Linked DNA regions of Homo sapiens. The protein of the gene in region 1 interacts with the protein of each later gene in a pairwise test. Each region holds a gene or a part of one and is shown on either strand. Other genes may lie near its edges. The genes, in order: MPZL1 and DOK7.

Region 1 (3,802 bases):
GAATTTTTCAGATTTTAAAAAATTAATACAATACCTATACTATATATTATGTAGTAGTCCCTAGAGAGTACAGGGCAGCATCCCACAATCAAACACATTAATATCTCTGCGGTGAAAAATACAATTAGTCATACCAAATAGGATCACAGTTGTAAACAGTATCTTACTACTTCAGGTTGAATTTTGCAGCCAAAGAATTTGTATCAAACTTAGGAAAAAACTTAATTTTCAAAGTATTTGTGGCTTTGCAGTTACAGATAAAAAAACTGTGGACCTATAACTTGTTTTTTGGTTTATTTTTACTTTGTAGAGATGGGGTCTTGCTATTTTGCCCCAGCCAGTCTTGAACTCCTGGCCTCAAGTGATCCTCCTGCCTCCTTAGCATTTTCTGATCCCCCTTTTTTTTTTTTGAGACACAGTTTTAGGCTGGGTGCGGTGGCTCACGCCTGTAATCCCAGCAGTTTGGGAGGCCAAGGCGAGGGAATCACGAGGTCAGGAAATCGAGACCATCCTGGCTAACATGGTGAAACACCGTCTCTACTGAAAAAATACAAAAAATTAGCCGGGTGTGGTGGCGGCTGCCTGTAGTCCCAGCTACTTTGGAGGCTGAGGCAGGAGAATGGCATGAACCTGGGAAGCAAAGCTTGCAGTGAGCCGAGATCGCGCCACTGCACTCCAGCCTGGGCGACAGAGCAAGACTCCGTCTCAAAAAAAAAAAAAAAAAAAAGACACAGTTTTACTCTGTCGCCCAGGCAAAAGTGCAGTAGCACAATCTCGGCTTACTGCAACCTCTGTCCCCCAGGTTCAAGCGATTCTCGTGCCTCAGCCTTCCCGAATAGCTGGGATAACAGGTGTGTGCCACCATATCCAACTAATTTTTTCCATTATTAGTAGAGATGGGGTTTCATCATGTTGGCCAGGCTGGCTTCAAACTCCTGACCTCAAATGATCCGTCCACCTCAGCCTCCCAAAGTGCTGGGATTACAGGCGCGAGCCACGGCACCCGGCCCATTTTCTGGTCTTAAATCCATATTATTCAACCTGATTACAAATTAGCATCACCTCTGTTCATTATTAATCCATTCACCAATTTCATTAGTGTGCAAGGTTCAGCAAGCCTCACTGCAGTTCTTCTAAATTTGCAGTCACTGAAGAAAAAAAAAGAATTAAATTCCTAATAGCTGAAAATGATCAAGACTCAAAGTTCCCAAGAGTTAACAGACAAGTGCTAGACCTCCAACTTGTGGCAGACAACATGGCTACAGAACCTCTGTCAATGGGGCAGAGGAGCCAAGAAGAGGTACAAGGGAGGAGACTTTGGTTTGGATGCCTGGGCCTGTTTGGACATTCTGTAAGGCAAGCATGCCAGGAGTCTAATGGCAAAAGGACCTGCACAGCCTCCAGAGAAGAACTCATCTCAAAGGAAGAAAGTCAAGGCTTAGTGGCTTCTTCCACATGTAATGTGTAATGAGGGGCAAGGAACCATTCTGAGCCCAGTATGGTATCACTCAGTATAATGGATTCATGCTTGTGCTCTTGATAGCGGGAGAGGTATGAGTGAGAAGAACCTACAAGAACCACATCAGCTGACATGGTGGCTCATACCTGTAATCCCAACTCTTTGGGAGGCTGTGGCAGGCGGATCACCTGAAGTCAGGAGTTCAAGACCAGCCTGGCCAACATGGTGAAACCCTGTCTCTACTAAAAACACAAAAATTAGCCAGGTGTGGTGGCAGGCACCTGTAATCCCAGCTATTAGGAAGGCTGAGGTGGGAGAATCACTTGAACCAGGGAGGTGGAGACTGCGCTGAGTGGAGATCGTGCCACTGCACTCCAGCCTGGGCCATATCAAGAGACTCTGCCTCAAAAAAGAAAAGAAAGAAAGAAAAAGAAAAAAAAAAGAACATCATTAAAAATCCCTGAGGAGCATTTAGAGTATTGGGTGGCACAAACAGATTCTGCATGATTGGTGAGGATGGCTTCAACACGGCAGCTTTATTCCTCTTTAACAGAGTCAGCAGCATCAAGGCATGAGGGATCTTGGCACAAACATCACCCCAAAGAAGAAATCTGGATGCCCCAGGACAGCTAAAAAGCCACTCTGTAAACACTTAAGACATTCCAGAATCTTCCCCAAAATGTTTAGAGACTTTGAAGAAAAAATTCTATAATACAGCAGGGTGGTTGCAAACATGTGCTTTGGAAATTGAGTCTCAACTCTACCATGTATTAGCTGTGTGATCTTAAGACCCTTAAGTTACACAATCTCTCTGAAACTTACTCTTCTTATCTATAAAATTAATAAAAATAATTATTGCACAGAGCTGTGAGGAGTATATAAGTAAATCGTTTAGCAAAGGCGTGGCACATAGTAAGCACTCAATAAATGAGAGCAGAGCAGAAGATATAACATGAACCTAGTTCTATGCCCTAACTTCTAAGGGCTAAGAAACAGAAAAGGGAGAGGGAGAAGTTAAAACATCTCCCTAACTGCTCACTCACTCTCTTTCTCTTCTCTTTTCAGACATCTAGGAGATTTCAAATATTTGCATTTTACCACATTTCTCTTAGGAACCTGAGTCCTCTATCTATGCTTCCTAATTCTCAGCAACACCCTTTGGAAGAAAGTATATAGCAATGATAACCTGGACTTGACTAGAGAATAACTATTAGACACTGTCTGGCCACAGGGTCACTAGGTTCTCATTGAAGCTAAGCTGACAATATAACACCTTATAACTTTTCATCTTTTCAAGTTTACCAAGTGTTATCTGGAAGAAGCACATGATTATGTTAAATGTATATAACTCCACATTGTAAACTTAATGTTTGGAGAGAAAAGAACACATTTCTTAATTTTAATAACAGCATCTTTTTTTTTTTTTCTTTTGAGACAGGGTGTCTCACTCTATCACCCAGGCTGGAGTGCGATGACACGATCTCAGCTCACTGCAACCTCTGCCTCCCAGGCTCAAGCGATTCTCATGCCTCAGCCTCCCAAGTGGCTGGGATTATAGGTGTGCGCCACCACCCCCAGCTAATTTTTTTTTTATTTTCAGTAAAGATGGGGGTTTTATCATGTTGTCCAGGCTGGTCTTGTACTCCTTAGCTCAGGCAATCCACCCGCCTCAGCCTCTCAAAGTGCTGGGATTACAGGCATGAGTCACCATGCCCGGCCGATAACAGCATCTTTTAAAATGCACGTAATAAACTCCCCAGATCCTAAAGTAGAATATCAGGGTCCCAGTATGAAAAAATGTTCATTGCAAGTTCATCAAGGTCTGTTCAGTTGGTTGCAGCATGCTCCTAACAAAACTTAAGTCATAGATTTCATTCTATGGGGCAATCTTATCTGCAATACACAGGATAGGCAAAGACATACTGCATTTCTAACTCCAATCAATTAAACCTAAGTACTGGATTCAGTGTATCACTGTTGCTACAAAATTACTCAAGCTCTATGTTCTAACAATAAGATCAGAGGTATCATAAGGTATCACAGTTTCTAGAGACTCTGAGTTTAGAAGAAGAAACCTACTGAAGGAGGATTTATCAATGAAATCATCTTGGATAAAGGCCTAATGGGATCAAGAAAAAATTGTTAAGTGAATAAAAAATTACAGTAGCCACATGCATTGAAAAAGACAATGAATAGGTTGGGCACGGTGGCTCATGCCTATAATCCTAGCATTTTGGGAGGCCGAGGCGGGTGGATCACCTGAGGTCAGGAGTTCGAGACCAGCCTGGCCAATATGGTGAAACCCCATCTCTACTAAAAATACAAAAAAAAAAAAAAAAAGAA
Region 2 (4,542 bases), on another chromosome or scaffold:
TCAGGAATGCAGCAGGGCCCTGCCTCTCCCTGTAGGGATAAGCAAGTGCCAGGCGCCCAGGGCAGCGGATGTGTCTGTGGCTACAGCCCCAACGGCCCCCGCCTCCGCACCGGCTGTCCTGGGCCAGCCCCTTGGGGGCCTGGGATGTGTGGGGAGCATGAATGGGGCTCTGTGACCCAGCAACTGTTCTGCGGAAGGCGGCTGGTGGCTGCACAGGTGACTGCGGGGGTGGGTGGGGGATGCAAAATTCTGCTTCCTGGGCCTGGTGTCCCCCGCCTTGCATGAGGCCCTGACAAGACATCACCGAAGCACCAAAGCCAACCCTTGTGGCCCACCGGAGACCTGTCTCTTGGATCACAGGGGCAGTGGGGAGGGGCGCCCAGGGCTCCCGATGCCTCTGAGCCCTGCTCTGAGGTCAGCCGATGTGGCTCAGTCCTGGCTGTGAGGCCTCACGCTGCCCTGATTCCATTTGCTCCTCAGTGCGAGGCAGACAGAGCCCAGCCTAGGGTCTGGATGGGATGAAATGAAGACGTCTCCTCCCTAACGGGACACTGTCTACCCCTTCCTTCTTCTCCCCCGAGAACCGTCAGCCCCGTGAGGATGGGGTCTAGGGTAGGGCATGTGGACGGAGCTTTGCTGTTTGTCCAGGTGCTTATCTTCTAGGGTGCCATCGCCCCTCCCCACTGCTGTTCCCGTATCTGCTGGGTGTCCCCAACCCCAGGGTGGTGGAGGCCGTCTCTCGGATGGGGCTGACACCCAAGGCACGGACCTGCCAGGTCCCCCAAAGCACATGGCCTCTCTGCAGAAGAACCTGGATGTGACATCTAATGCCCAGGCCAGAGCTTGGGGACAGCTGGACTGGAGCCACAGGGTCAAGGAGGGGGAGTCCAGAAGCGCAAAGTCCACCCAGCTGGGAGGGCTGCTGGCAGGTCCTTTACAAAGCAGGCAGCTCCTCTGCCCATCGGAGCCGGCTGGCCTAACCAGGGCCTGCTCTTGCCTGGGATGGGGGCAGAAGAGGTGGAGACCTGGGGCCCTGAGGCGGCACTGTGGGTCCTGGACCCGCCCACCTGCACTGGGGTCCCTGCAGGCTTTTAATGGGAACAGAAATGGAGGAAGAGACAGAGGCTGCCAGGGGCTCCCCGACCCCTACTGCCTGCCTGGGGAGGGGTCACCTCAGTGTGGGGGAAGCCTGGGGATGTGAGAGCATCCTAGGCCTGGGCTGCCTGTGGCCAGTCTGTTGTCCGGGTGTCTAGTGACCCCTGGGGTAGGGGCAGATGCCAGTCTGGGAAGCCGGATTGTTTGAAGACCAACTTTAAAGTTGGGAGCAGTGCCCAGAGCGGGGCCGATGTCTGCTAGGTGGTTGTCTCTGCTTTTTGAAAAAGAAGTCCCCGCCCGACCCCCGCCCCGCCAGGCGCTGGTCTGAGCGTCTGAGCCCAGATGGTGCGCTTGCTCCAGAGGGCGGGCGGCTCCAGTGGCCGCCGCGGGACGGTGGGGCCAGAGGGGCCCGTGGGGGTGGGGGAGCCGCCCGCAGGAGAAGGAGCCCCGCCCGCGCCGGCCCTGGAGTCGCCGGTGTCGCCGCCCTGCCCGCGGGCCCGCCCTCCTGGCCCAGCCCAGGGCCCTGCGAGCTATTTTGAAAGTGACCCTGGGCTGGGGCGCCGGGGCGAGCGCGGCGGCGCGGAACCATGACAGAAGATGACCGAGGCGGCGCTGGTGGAGGGCCAGGTCAAGCTGCGGGACGGCAAGAAGGTCGGGGCGCGTCGGGGGCGCGGGGGGGGGGGGCGCGGGCGCGGGCGGCGGCTCACGCTCCCCCCTGTCCCCGCAGTGGAAGAGTAGGTGGCTGGTGCTGCGGAAGCCGTCGCCCGTGGCAGGTGAGCGGGGCGGGCGGGGGACGGGGGGCGCGGGGGTAGCGACACGGGTTACCGAGGCCCGGGGCAGTAATGCCAGCTTGCCCAAAATCGCCGCCGCTGTCACCCCGCCGGGAAACCCGAGAGCCCCGTGCGGACCCGGACCCCCCGGCGCCCCTGGGAGCGCAGGTGGGGGCCCTGGACGGAAGAACCCTCTTTCCAGCAGGGCAGACTGAGGCCCGAGGGGCTGCCTGGTGGCCCTGTAGGCGGAGGGGACGCAGGCCCTGAGCCCCCCAGCAGAGCAGCAAGGGGCCCCCCAGAAGCAAAGCCCCACATACCTGAGGGTTGAGCTGTGCTTGTGGAAACGCTCAGAGCAGGGCCCCCGAACCCAGCCTCCAGGGGTGCTGCGTGGGTTAGCGCTGACCCTGGACCCCTCCCAGGCAGACGAGAGGCTGGGCTGCGGTAGGGCAGGGCAGAGTGACTGCCACATTGCTGGGGGAACAGTCCTCTGGGAGGAGGCAGGGGTCCCCCCCCAGTCCCCGCCCTGAGCCAGCACCCCAGCTTGGGGAGGGTCAGCATGGAGCCCCCAGGTCTGGCAGCCCAGGCCGCCTGCAGCGCTGGGCCTGTAGGGAGGGCTGAGCCGGGCCTGCAGCTGCTCCAGAGGACAGGTGCGGCAGAGCCGGCCAGGCCCGGGTCTGGGTGGGATGCTCGGCCTGTGTGCATGGGGGGCTGTACGCCAGGGGGCTGCCAGAGCACCCTCCAGGACGGGTGTCTGTGACTCCCAGGGAGGGTGTGGGGCAGGGATCCCTCCTGCGTCCCCTCTGCAGGGCCTCAGGTGGTCCTGGAGGAAAGCACTTCCTGCCTGCCTCCGCCTCCCCTTGCAGGGCCTGGACTGCACGCTGGTCACTTCTCCACTCAGCCCTCCGTGCCCAGACCTCCTGCCTGGAGCTGTGGGGGCACCGACAGAGCCTGGGAGGGCGTCTTTGTCCTCCGGGGCTGCAGGGGACCTGGTATAGGAAGGGATGGGGTCTGGGCAGAGTGAGAGGCCCTGCCAGGCTGGGGCGGATGACAGGCTTTAGTCAGCTGTGGCTGGGTCGGGGCCGTGGTGGGGCAGGTGATGCTTGGTGGATGGTGCTGGGCTGGAGCCGGTGCAGACCCTCCAGAGAGGCCGCATCCCAGGAAGGCACCCGGGACAGCAGCCCCCAAAGAGGAGTGTCGGGGGAGAAGTCTTTGTCCCTGTTGGAGGGATTTTCTTTCTGCATCAGACAGTCCCAGGAGGCAGGGCCTGCCAGCCTCAAGAGGGTGTGCTCCCCCGGCCGGTGAGTGCCTGAGTGGAGTGACAGGAGTTTGCAATGGGTCCCCCAGGTGGGACAATCTGTGAGTCTGTAGGTGAACATGGTGGCTCCCGAGCGTCTGCTGGGTTATCCCGTATCCTGCGCAGTTGAGATCTGCAGCCTTCTGGGGCTGGCGTGGGAGGTGATGTGGGGTAGTAGAAGGTGCCATGCCCCCTCTGGGTGGATGTTCATTCCAAGCCTTGAGGCCAGGTGTCCCTAGCACCCACTGACTCACTGGCCTGGGACCCATTGCTTTGGACACCTGCTTTCTGTGTTGGTCACTCCAGCAGCCCAGGGTTGAAACTGACACCCTGTGGGGTTGCCCAGAGGTCGGTCAGATGAGGGGATGGGACAGAGCGGAGTTCTCACGCCCACCTCCCCACCCTGACCAGGCCAGCCTGGCACCTCCTCTCCGCTCAGAGGCCCTGATGCCTCTTCCCCTGGCCCCTCATAAGCCTCCCTAGATGCTGCCCCCTTTGCCTTCACCCAGCTGCCTTCCCGCTCAGCGCTGGAGACCACCTCCCTTGTGGATGGGCCCGGCGTGGAGGGAGCAGGCCCCAGCCCTGGAGGAGCAGACAGCACAGACCCTGCGCTCCTGGTGTGAGGGAGAGAGGAAGGGTCCCGTCTGCTTCCTTGTAAGACAGGCAGGGTTCTTTTTGTTACCAGTGGTGATTTCCTTCTGGGAAGGGCCCCGATGTGCACCTTTTCCACTGGCACCTTTCTCCTCCTTGCGTTTTTCTCAATCGTGAGCACGTCTTTCTGTTATGACAAGGTTTAGCGAATGAAAGGGAAACCCTTTTATCAAAGGGCTGCTCAGCCACAGCGCCTGGCATGGCCAGTGGACGTCGGGCCGTCTGCCTCGGTGTGGGACTGCAGGGTGCCCTGCAGTGGGACCACGTTCCTCAATGTCTCCACCGCGTCCTCACTGCGGAATGCGTGTCTGCGTCCCCTCTCTGGGCAGGGCCCCGGGGGAGGAGGGTGGTCTGTGTCCAGTTGTGGCCCAGGACTCACTGCTGGTGGCCCTGCATGCCAGCGGCGCCTGGCCCAGCCCCTCTCTTCTTCCTCCCAGGTGCGGGGGCTGGGGGTGGTGAGGAAAGTGTTCTTGACATCCTGTGGAGAGTGTGGCCCCAGGCCAGACACTTGAGGGGGCCTGCTTCCCACAGGGGCTGCCCCTGGGGGCTTCATCCAGCTCAGAAAAGCCACCGGGAGGGCCCGAGTCCTGGAGCTGGCAGGGTCTTGGAGTCACCATGGTGGGGGGAAGCTGAAACTCAGAAACCCGAGGGATCTGGCCCAAGACATGGACTGCTGGGCAGAGCCCAGTTCCCCCCAGCCAGCCCAAACCTTGCCCCCCACAGCTGGCTGGA

What was found.
Region 2: the proteins of MPZL1 (region 1) and DOK7 interact in a two-hybrid assay, tested with the Homo sapiens proteins (one large-scale study listed by BioGRID).

Annotation. Positions count from the first base shown.
Region 1 is NC_000001.11:167,728,360-167,732,161, reverse strand, and holds part of MPZL1 (myelin protein zero-like protein 1 isoform a precursor), read right to left. Parts: intron 1-3,802. UniProt on the Homo sapiens protein: Cell surface receptor, which is involved in signal transduction processes. Recruits PTPN11/SHP-2 to the cell membrane and is a putative substrate of PTPN11/SHP-2.
Region 2 is NC_000004.12:3,461,684-3,466,225, forward strand, and holds the start of DOK7 (protein Dok-7), read left to right. Parts: upstream 1-1,622; 5' UTR 1,623-1,692; coding exon 1,693-1,746; intron 1,747-1,822; coding exon 1,823-1,868; intron 1,869-4,542. UniProt on the Homo sapiens protein: Probable muscle-intrinsic activator of MUSK that plays an essential role in neuromuscular synaptogenesis. Acts in aneural activation of MUSK and subsequent acetylcholine receptor (AchR) clustering in myotubes. Induces autophosphorylation of MUSK.